2 separate regions of the Homo sapiens genome follow, and region 2 is linked to region 1. Evidence: fine-mapped expression QTL. A gene starts in region 1. The other region holds a variant in brackets. All regions are shown on one strand. Distances are from middle to middle. Region 1 holds the start of POGLUT1 (protein O-glucosyltransferase 1). Region 2 overlaps TMEM39A (transmembrane protein 39A).

What was found. PIP is the estimated chance that this variant, and not a neighbour inherited with it, causes the effect.
Region 2: its variant is the best candidate, but not a certain one, in a credible set for the expression of POGLUT1 in monocytes after interferon gamma (Fairfax 2014, PIP 0.62).

The regions. Positions count from the first base shown.
Region 1 is chr3:119,465,913-119,471,293 of GRCh38, reverse strand. It overlaps POGLUT1 (protein O-glucosyltransferase 1), which reads right to left and starts at 2,331. Exons shown (of 11, transcript NM_152305.3): 1 at 2,188-2,331; 2 at 1,384-1,474. The coding sequence starts at 2,272. RefSeq lists a silencer at 2,055-2,254 and enhancers at 2,305-2,474, 2,167-2,667.
Region 2 is chr3:119,440,618-119,445,998 of GRCh38, reverse strand. The region is part of intron 5 of TMEM39A (transmembrane protein 39A); the gene reads left to right. Among named protein-coding and RNA genes, the nearest start is that of TMEM39A, 20 kb to the left of the region's middle. The variant T/ATTTTT (reference allele first, on the strand shown) is at 2,093.

The DNA.
Region 1 (5,381 bases):
AGTCATCAAGGAAAGCAGGCCAAGAGAGTGGTGCCATTCCACCTACTTCCTAAGTGCATTTAGGTTTCGTATTAGAGAACACAGTAAGTGGAAGGAAAGAATCGAGAGTGAGAATGAGCAGCTCTTCCCTAGAAGCCCTGTAGGTAATCTGAAACATCAAATGCAATAAAGCAATAAAAAGTAAAAAGCGGGTCAATGTCTCTTCTTCCTCCTTCCATCTGGATTGCCCCTCCCTTGGCAGTTCTGTATTTCTCTTTCGCTACTCATGCCACACCTGTGTCCTTCTAGTCACTTCAGTCCTCCTGGCATCTCCTCCCAATCCCACAGGAGGTGAAGTTTACGCCTTACAGTCTAGCACTGACTCTCTTGTTCTGGTCTGTCTGGTCCACACTCTCCCCCACAAGCCCTTACTCTGGTAGCGTGACAGCAGTAACCAAAATTACACTATTTTGTATTCCTTTTAAAGTGAGTGCATAGTAAGTTTTCAATAAGTATCATAAGCATCCAAGGAATTTTTTGAGGAGTCAAAAATAACATAAAAAGGAGCTTAAAAGACCCTGTTATTTAGCTGATGAAGAATCTGAGACCCAGAGGAGTTGAAGTGGCTCGGCACAGGGGTAACCAGTGGGAGTACCGGCACCAACACCCAAGTCTGTTTTCAGAGTTATCTTTCTACCATACCTCATCCCGGCCCTGATGTGCATTCTCTCTCTTTTTTGAGACGGAGTCTCACTCTGTCACCCAGGCTGGGGTGCAGTGGCATGATCTGGATTCAATGCAACCTCTGCTTCCCGGGTTCAAGCGATTCTCCTGCCTCAGCCTCCCGAGTAGCTGGGATTACAGGCACGTGCCATCATGCCCAGCTAATTTTTGTATTTTTAGTAGAGACAGGGTTTCACCATGTTGGCCAGGCTGGTCTCGAAATTCTGACCTCAGGTGATCCACCTGCCTTGGCCTCTCAAAGTGCTGGGATTACAGGCATGAACCACCATGCCCAGCCTGATGTGCATTTTCTAAAGATAACCATCAGGAAATTTAGGACTAGATTCAGCGATAGATGGGTTTATTTCCTCAACAATATTTATCGAGCACGCACTGACAGCTAGCACCAGGGAGACAACAGCAAATAAGACACAGACCCTGACCTCAGGAAGCTTGCAGCCCAGTGGGAAAAACAGATGCACATGCACTGAATCCCGCAGTGAGTCAGTGGTTAGGTTGACACCACCTGAGCCTTTCCCATGCGAGAGCATTTTTATTCCCCAGAAATAGAAAAACATCCTTGCCTTTCTGACCACTGCAACCAAAATCTCTCAAGGATGTTAGAATACTTCCTGTGACAGCAACTAAACTCTCAAAGACACATCAAAGAAAAGAACTCACCCATGGTAGCAGCTGCAGTTTTGACTTGAACATGGTTCGTAATTCTCCAAAGACCTGTTAATTTGGTCAATAAATACTTTCCATTTTGAACCTTTAAAAAGTGAAGTAAATGAGAGTTAAAAAAATTTTCCTGAATGTTATTTGCTGACACCACACCAACAGAAGAAACAGAAGACCAAAACTTTCAGAAATCCCCTTCCCATCCCACTGATGGAAACGAAACGCTAGGGAGGAATTTTTGTGTGTGCAACTCCCACGCTCACGTCAAGTCTGTTCCTCTATCCGGCTGTCAGGTGTCCAAGAAACTGGAAAATTCCCAAGCTTAATGCTCAACCCTCAGAATGCTATGGATAGTGACGCGGACTCTCACTTTCTACTAATCAAATTGAACTCCACAAAGAGGATCAGTTAAAAGCTACAGACATTAAACCCCTCTTCTCTTCTGGCAACGCATATACACACACGCTCGCGCGCACGACATTTGCCCCCATCCCCGACCCCTCAGTGTTTCAGGCAGGTCCAGAGTAGCCAAGCACGGGCCACGCCTCCTGCGGGTGAACGGGGAATTCCCTCTCCTCCCTGTCATTCTGAATTCCGGGGAATGGGTTACTCTCCAGGGTCCAGAGCAGGAGCAGAGACCCCGGCACCTCACTCTCCGCCGCAAGGCGCCCCGGTGCCTTCTGCCCAGCTCCGAGCTACAGCGGCCACGGCATCTTCCCGGGAGCCGGCCGCGCGGGGGAGCGCCTCGGGACTCCGGCCAGACCCCGAGCCCAAGGGGCAGGCTCGGCACTGCCCGGAGCCCACCTGACTCCTTCTGGCGGCCCTGCGCTGAGGGCAGGAGGAACAACAGCAGCCAGAGCCGAAGCGGCGAGCTAGCCCACCACTCCATCGCCGGCAGACCTACTGCAGATTCCCCGCTGCGGCGCTGGCGGAAGCGCGGCCCCGCACAAAGATGGCCCGGGAGCCGCAGCACGTGGGCGGCGGGTCGCCCCGCACAAAGATGGCCACCGTGGCCCCACCACCCTTCCTCCAGTCCCCAGCCTTGAGGCGGAGTTTCCCTGAGAAGGCTGCGCCGGGAAGGTGGGGAGGATAAACGAATGGACCAGTTGCCTATCCTCCCTCCCTGGCACCCCTGGGAAAATAGGTCTGCAGCCAGAAAACTGAAGGTCAGAGAGGGTATGTTTCACGGTTAGTGGCACAACCAAGACTTGGCATAGAGCCTAGGCCAAACAGTTCTTCTCTTGACGTCAAATTGCCTCTTATCAAATAGCATAAATTTGTTGAGCATGTGTGTGTGTGTGTGTGTGTGTGTGTGTGTGTGTGTACAGCACGGTTAGACCCCAAAGGTTGCAATTAGCATAGCAGGGATCCCTTTGTAATAGGAATTTATAACAGTTGGGGTGACTTAGACGTAGGAAAAAAGATCAATGGTGTTAAATAAAGTTTATGGGAGGTCGTTGTTTTGGACAGAACTCTGGCACTAGGCCTCAAGAGAGCAGACAAAACCAGAATGGAGGCAACTTGTCCTAGGTGCTGCGTAATTAAACTCAGCTTTAAAAGGGGTCAGTTTTCCAACAAATAGGAGAAGGGGCCCATATACCTGAGCTGGCATGATAAAGAAGTCCCCTCTGATGTAACTCTTTGAGGAAAGTAACTTCAAAATGACCAATCTGCTTTTTGTTCCTTATTTCTGCTTTCTTCAGCCCTTTTCTGCCTATAAGCCCAACCCCTTCTGCTCAGCTCATTAGAACACTTTTCTGTTTTATAGATGAGATGCTGCCTGATTCATGAATCACTAATAAAAGCCAATTCGATTTTTTTTTTTTTTTGAGACAGAGGACAGTCTAACTCTGTTGCCCAGCCTGGAGTGCAGTGGCACAATCTTGGCTCACTATGACGTCTGCCTCCCGGGTTCAAGCAATTCTTCTGTCTCAGTCTCCCGAGTAGCTGGGATTACAGGAGTGTGTCACCATGCCCGGGTAATTTTTGTATTTTTAGTAAAGACAGGGTTTCACCGTGTTGGCCAGGTTGGTCTCAAACTCCTGACCTCAGGTGATCTGCCCACCTCGGCCTCCCAAAGTGCTGGGATTACAGGCGTGAGCCACCATGCCTGGCCAAGAACTTTAAACTAAATTTGATGAAATTTTGTTTCTTGACAGTGGGCAACATGATACTGGACAATATAGGTATATAGTATAGTACAGGTATATATCTTTATACAGGTATATATAGGTCAGTGTAGATATATTTAGTAATCATAGAACTACAAATATTTATCTATTTTCTTTTTTTTTTTTTTTTTTGAGATGGAGTTTCGCTCTTGTTGCCCAGGCTGGAGTGCAATGGTTCAATATCGGCTCACCACAACCTCCGCCTCCTGGGTTCAAGCAATTCTCCTGCCTCAGCCTCCTGAGTAGGTGGATTACAGGCTTGCGCCACCACACCCGGCTAATTTTGTATTTTTAGTAGAGATGGGGTTTCTCCATATTTGTCAGGCTGGTCTCGAACTCCCGACCTCCGGTGATCCACCAGCCTCGACCTCCCAAAGTGCTGGGATTGCAGGCGTGAGCCACTGCGCCCAGCAATATTTATCTATTTTCTAAAATGTACATGGTTATATCCCTAAGCCTTGTGGAAATATGGAAATACAGGGAAGTACAAGATCAAATCTGTGCTCCCAGGAGTTTAGAACTAGTAGGGAAGACAAATATGCTTCCTTAGAGATAGTTTACAATTTAAGGCAATAGTTAAGTGCCACTGGTTTCAGTGGAGGAAAAGATCAATATGAAGTGGAAATCTGGAGAAAGGGGTAGGAGGGGTATATTTTGTACTGAAGAAAAGGAAACGTTACAGTTAAGGAATATTGTGCTGGAGTCACTAAAAATATGGGAGCCATAATTTGCAGAAGGTGGGGATCAAATTTAGCTTGACAGTAGTGGAGGCTTTAGGATGCACGTTAAGGAATGGTGGAAGAGAAAATAATGTTGATTACCTAGGAATGGGCCGTATCGGTCACATATTACACCCATATGGGCATTTGGTCTATATTCCACCAGGGCAGAACCACCCAGTTTTTGTATGAGTGAGGCTCACTTTGGGTGAACAGACAGGAAAAAAAATGTATATCCAAAACTATAGCATATTTCTTCTGGAATCCAAATGAAACTTTAGTCAAAAATTTTTCTACTTCCAGGAAGGTGTGCAGTACAGTCATGTGTTGTTTGACAATGGGAATATGTTTTGAGAAATGTGTCAGGCAATTTTGTTGTGTGAACATCATAGATTATACTTACACAAACCTAGCTAGTATAGCCTACTACATACTGAGGATATTTGGCATAGCCTATTGCTCCTAGGCTACAAACCTATTCAGCATGTTACTGTACTGAATATTACAGGCAATTGTAACACAATGGTAAGTATTGGTGTATCTAAACATTGAAAAGGTACAGTAAATGAGTAAAAATGATACACCTGTATAAGGCACTTACCATGAATGGAGCTTGCAGGACTGAAAGTTGCTCTGGATAAGTCAGTGAGTGGTGAGTAAATGTGAACACCTAGAACATTACGCTACTATAGATTTTATAAACACTGTACAGTTAGACCATACTAAACTTATAAACACGTTTTTCTTTCTTCAGTAATAAATTAGCTTATTGTAACTTTTTTACTGTACAAACCTTTTTTTTTCAACTTTTTGACTTTGTAATAACACTTAGCTTAAAACACAAGCACATTGTACAGCCATACAAAAATATTTTTTCTTTCTTTCTTTTCCTTCCTTCCTCCCTCCCTCCCTCCTTTCTTTTCTTTTCTTTTTTTTTTTTTGAGACAGTCTCGCTTTGTTGCCCAGGCTAGAGTGCAGTGGTGCTATCTCAGCTGACTGCAACCTCTGCCTCCCAGGTTCAAGCAATTCTCGTGCCTCAGCCTCCTGAGTAGCTGGCATTACAGGTGTACACCATAACACCTGGCTAATTTTTGTATTTTTAGTAGAG
Region 2 (5,381 bases), 25 kb after region 1:
TGGTACTATCCATGGTTTTAGGCATCCACTGGGGTGTTGGAATGTCTTCCTGCAGGTAAGAGGGTCTACTCTATGCCATATTCAAGTGCTGTAGACATGTATATATATTATTATGATTGTAACTAACATTTTATTACAAAACCTTTTAAACATTCAACAAGGTTGAAAGAATTTTACAGCTATCACCAGTGTAATCCTTACCCAGATGATTCTGCCTATTAATGTTTTACTATAACTGTGTAATACTTATCTGTCCATCTCTCCATCCCTCTATCCATTAGTCCATCTTACTTTTGATGCATTTCAAAGTTAAATTTCAGACCTCAGTTTGCTTCCTCCTCAATACTTCAGCATGTGTGTATCATTAACTAGAGCTCGATATTTGTTGACAGCTTTTTTTTCTTTTGAGGTTAAATTCATATAAATAAAATTCCCGCCGGGCGCGGTGGCTCAAGCCTGTAATCCTAGCACTTTGGGAGGCCGAGGTGGGCAGATCACCTGAGGTTAGTAGTTCGAGACCAGCCTCGCCAACATGGCGAAACCCCGTCTCTACTAAAAATAAAAAAATTAGCAGGGCGTGGTGGCACGTGTCTGTAATCCCAGTTACTCGGGAGGCTGAGGCAGAAGAATCACTCGAACCCAGGAGATGGAGGTTGCAATGAGCCAGAGCCAGGATCGCGCCATGGCACTCCAGACTGGGCGACGAGCAAGACTCTGTCTCAAATAAATAAATAAATAAAATAAAATAAAATAAAATTCCCAAATCTTGTGTATATGGAGTTTTGTTAAATGTGGACATACCTGTGTGACTTAATCCCCTGTCAAGACTTCAGAGCGTTACACATACTCCACAAGATTCTGTCATGCCACTTTCCCATCAAACCCCACCACTGTCCAGAGACGGTTGCTTTTTTTTTTTGAGACAGGGTTTTGCTCTGTCATCCAGGCGGGAGTGCAGTAGAGCGATCTCAGCTCACTGCAGCCTTGACCTCTCAGGCTCAAGCAATTCTCCCACCTCAGCCTCCCAAGTAGTTGGGACTACATGTGCACACCACCATGCCCCGCTAATTTTTGTTTTGTTTTGTTTTGTAGAGACAGGATTTTACCATGTTGCCCAGGCTGAGGAGTAAGGTTTTTTTGATTCCAGAGTCTTTGTCTTAATCATTACTGTATCAGTAGTTCTCAAAATGTAGTTTCTAGAACAGCAGCATCAGCATCACCTATAAATTTGTTGGAAATTCTCAGAATCTACCCCAAACCTACTGAAATAGAAACTGGAAAGTAGGACCTAGCAAGTTGTGTTTTAACAAGCCCTCAAGGTGATTCTGATGCATGCTCAAGTTTGAGAATTACTGCTTTATATTATTTATGGTGCTGAAGTGTTAGCGTGAATTTATGTGGGTAATTACAAAGTATAAAATCAAGTCATAATTAGAGATTGTGCTAATAAGGATGACAGGAACAGTCTTTCTATTGGTTATACTATAGTAGGTCTGATTACATTGTTTAAACAGTTATTTAAGTCACTCATCAACTGAATTCATTAATATTACCCTTGTTTTCTACAAAATGAATTATCTGTTACGAACATTTTTCATGACTCTGATTTCATATGAGGAATATATTTTACATGAATTGTTTCTATATTTATAGATTAATATTTCAGCCATTTGAGTTGAAAATAAATTTTTAGTCATTCTCCTTACTGGTTGAATCAGAAGATTAACCGTGTCTGATTTGAACGGCTAATTATGGGTATATTGAAGAATATTTTGGCCAAGTTTAAGAGGATTACTATTATCAGGATGGCTAGCAAACTTTTCTGTTTCAATTTAAGTATATAAAGAAACTTACTCTTAGAGGCTCTCCACACCCCTTAAAACAATGAAATAATTATGTAATTTAAATACATTTTAGTTTTAAACATACAGGCATACCTCAGAGATGTTGTAAGTTCTGTTCCAGACTGCTGCAATAAAGCGAATATCACAATAAACGAGTCATGTCAATTTTTTGATTTCCTAGTGCATATGAAAGTTATGTGTACACTATACTGTAGTCTATTTTATTTTATTTTATTTTATTTTATTTT[T/ATTTTT]TGAGACAAGGTCTTGCTGTGTTGCCCAGGCTGGAGTGCAGTGGTGCAATCACAGCTCACTGCAGCCTTGCCCTCCTAGGATTGCTCAAGCAATCCTAGGGGACTGGGACTGTAGCCGTGTGCCACCATGCCTGGCTAATTTTTAAATTTTTTTGTAGAGATCGGGTCTCGTTTTGTTGCCCAGGCTGGTCTTGAACTCCTGGGCTCAAGTGATCCTCTTGCCTTGGCCTCCCAAAGTGCTGGGGTTACAGAGGGGAGCCACCATGCCCAGCCTTATACTATCTGTATTCTATTAAGTACATAATAGCATTATGTCTTTTAAAAGTACATATCTTAATTAAAAAATACTTGATTGCTAAAGTATGCAGATGAGCATTTGAGCCTTCAGTGAGTTGTAATCTTGCTGGTGGAGAGTCTTGCCTCAATGTTGATGGCTGCTGACTGATCAGGGTGGTGGTTGCTGAAGGTTGGGATGGCTTTGTCACTTTCTTAAAATAAGACAACAGTGAAGTTGGCCACATCAGTTGACACTTCCTTTCATGAAACATATCTCTGTAGCATGTGATGTGTTTGATAGATAATATTTTACCCACAGTGGAACTTCTTTCAACATTGAAGTCATTTCTCTCAAACCCTATTGCTGCTGTAACAACTAAGTTTATATAATATTCTAAACTCTTTGTCATTTCAACAGTGTTCTCAGCATCTTTACCAGAAATAGATTTTATGTCAAGAAACAACTTTCTTATCCATAAGAAGCAGCTCCTTATCCGTTTAAGTTTGATTGTGAGAGAGTGCAGCCACATCTTCAGGCTTCACTTTTTTTTTTTTTTTTTTTTTTTTGAGACAGGGTCTCACTGTCGCCCAGGTTGGAGTGCAGTGGTATAATCATGGCTCACTGCAACATCTGTCTCCTGGGCTCAAGTGATCCTCCCACCTCAGCCTCTCAAGTAGCTGGGACTACAGGTGTGTGCCACCACACCCGGCTAATTTTTGTATTTTGTTTTTTTGTAGAGGTGGGGTTTTGCTATGTTGCCTAGGCTGGTGTCGAACTCCTAGGCTCAAGTGATCCAGCCTCCTTGGCTTCCCAAAGTGCTGGGATTAGAGGCATGAGCCACTGCACCTAGTCCAGGCTCCACTTCTAATTCTAGTTCTGTTGCTTTTTCTTCCACATTTGCGGTTACTTTCTCCAGTGAAGTCTTGAACCTCTCAAAGTCATCCATGAGGGTAGGAATCAACTTCCTCCACATTTGCTCGTGTTGATATTTTGACCTCCTCTCATAAATCACAAATGTTCTCAATGGCATTTAGCATGGTGAATTGTTTCCAGATGGTTTTCAGTTTACTTTGCCCAGATCCATTGGAGGAATCTCTATTTAATGCAGAAATAGCCTTACAAAACGTATTTCTTAAATAATAAGATTTGAAAATCAGAATTACTTCTTGATTCATGGCTGCAGAATGGATGCTATCTTAACAGGCATAAAAACAACAATCTCCATCAGAGCCTTTGGTGACTAGGTACACTGTCAATGAGCAGTAAGTACTTTTTTTTTTTTTTTTTGAGATGGAGTCTTTCTCTGTTGCCCAGGCTGGAATGCAGTGGTGTGATCTCAGCTCACTGCAACCTCTGCCTCCCAGGTTCAAGTGATTGTCCTGCCTCAGCCTCCCAAGTAGCTGGGACTACAGGTGCATGCCACCATGCCTGGCTAATTTCTTTGGATTTTTAGTAGAGTCGGGGTTTCGCTATGTTGGCCATGCTGGTGTCGAACTCCTGACCTCAGGTGCTCCGCCTGCCTCAGCCTCCCAAAGTGCTGGGATTACAGGCGTGAGCCACCGCACCCAGCCGTACATAATATTTTTAAAGGAATCTTTTTTCTAAACCGTAGGTTCAACAGTGAGCTTATTCAGTAAACCATGCTGTAAACAGATGTACTGTCATCCAAATATGTTGTTCTATTTCTAGAGCATTGGCAGAGTAGATTTTGCATAATTCTTAAGGATGGTAGGATTTTTGGAATGGTAAATAAGCATTGGCTTCCACTTAAAGTTACCAGCTGCGTTAGCCACTAACAAGAGAGTCAGCTTATCCTTTGAAGCTTTGAAGCCAGGCATTGACTTCTCCTCTCTAGGTATGGAAGTCTAGATGGCATCTTCTTCCAATACAGTATAAGGCTGTTTTGTCACCCTTGAAAAGTCTGTTAGTTTAGTCACCTTCATCAGTGATCTTAGCTAGGTCTTCTGGATAACTTGCTACAGTTTGTAGATTCACACTTGCTGTTTCACATTGTGCTTTTATGTTATGGGACAGCTTCTTTCCTTAAACCTCACGAACTAACCGCTGTTAACCTTCATACGTTTCTTCTGTAGCTTTCTCACCTCTCTGGAGGTTCATAGACTTAAAAAGAGTTAGGGCTTTGCTCTGGATTAGGCTTTGGTTTAGGGCAATGTCGTGGCTGGTCGATCCAGACCATATCAGCAAAACTTTCTCCATATCAGCAGTGAGGCTGTTTTCTTTGTTACCATTTGTATGTTCACTGGAGTAGCACTTTTAATTTCCTTGAATAACTTTTTCTTTGCATTTACAATTCGGCTAGCTAATACAAGAGGCCCAGCTTTCAGCTTGTCTGGGCTTTTGACATGTTTTCTCACTAAGCTTAATATCCACTTTTTGATTTAAAGTGAGAGATGTGTGATGTCCTTTCACTTGAACACTCGGAGGCCATTTAGGGTTATTAGTTGGCCTTATTTCAATATTCTTGTGTTTTAGGGAATAGGGAGGTCTGACGTGAGGGAGAGAGATGGGGGAATGGCTCATTGATGGAACAATGAGAACAAACATTTATCCATTAAGTTTGCTGTCTCATATGGTGCAGTTTGTAGTGCCCCAAAACAATTACAGTAGTAATATCAAAGATCACATTTCGCATAACAGATGTAATAGTAATGAAAAAGTTTGAAATATTGGGAGAATTACCAAAATATGGCAGAGACACAAAGTGAGCACTTTGGAAAATGGCACCCCCAGATACGCTTGATGCAGGGTTGCCACAAACCTTCAGTTTGTAATAAATACAGTATCTGGGAAGCACAATGAAGTGAAATGCAATAAAATGAGGTATGCCTGTATTTGCCTTCGTTACTTTTAAGAAGTTGTATAATCCACCTTTTATCTAAACTTCAATTTAAAAATCAAAAGTGCGAGAAATTTAAAATACTAGATTATGACAATAGCAACATGTTTAATTTCCTGTTTATTCATAGGTTAAACTAAGAAAGAGGCCCTTTT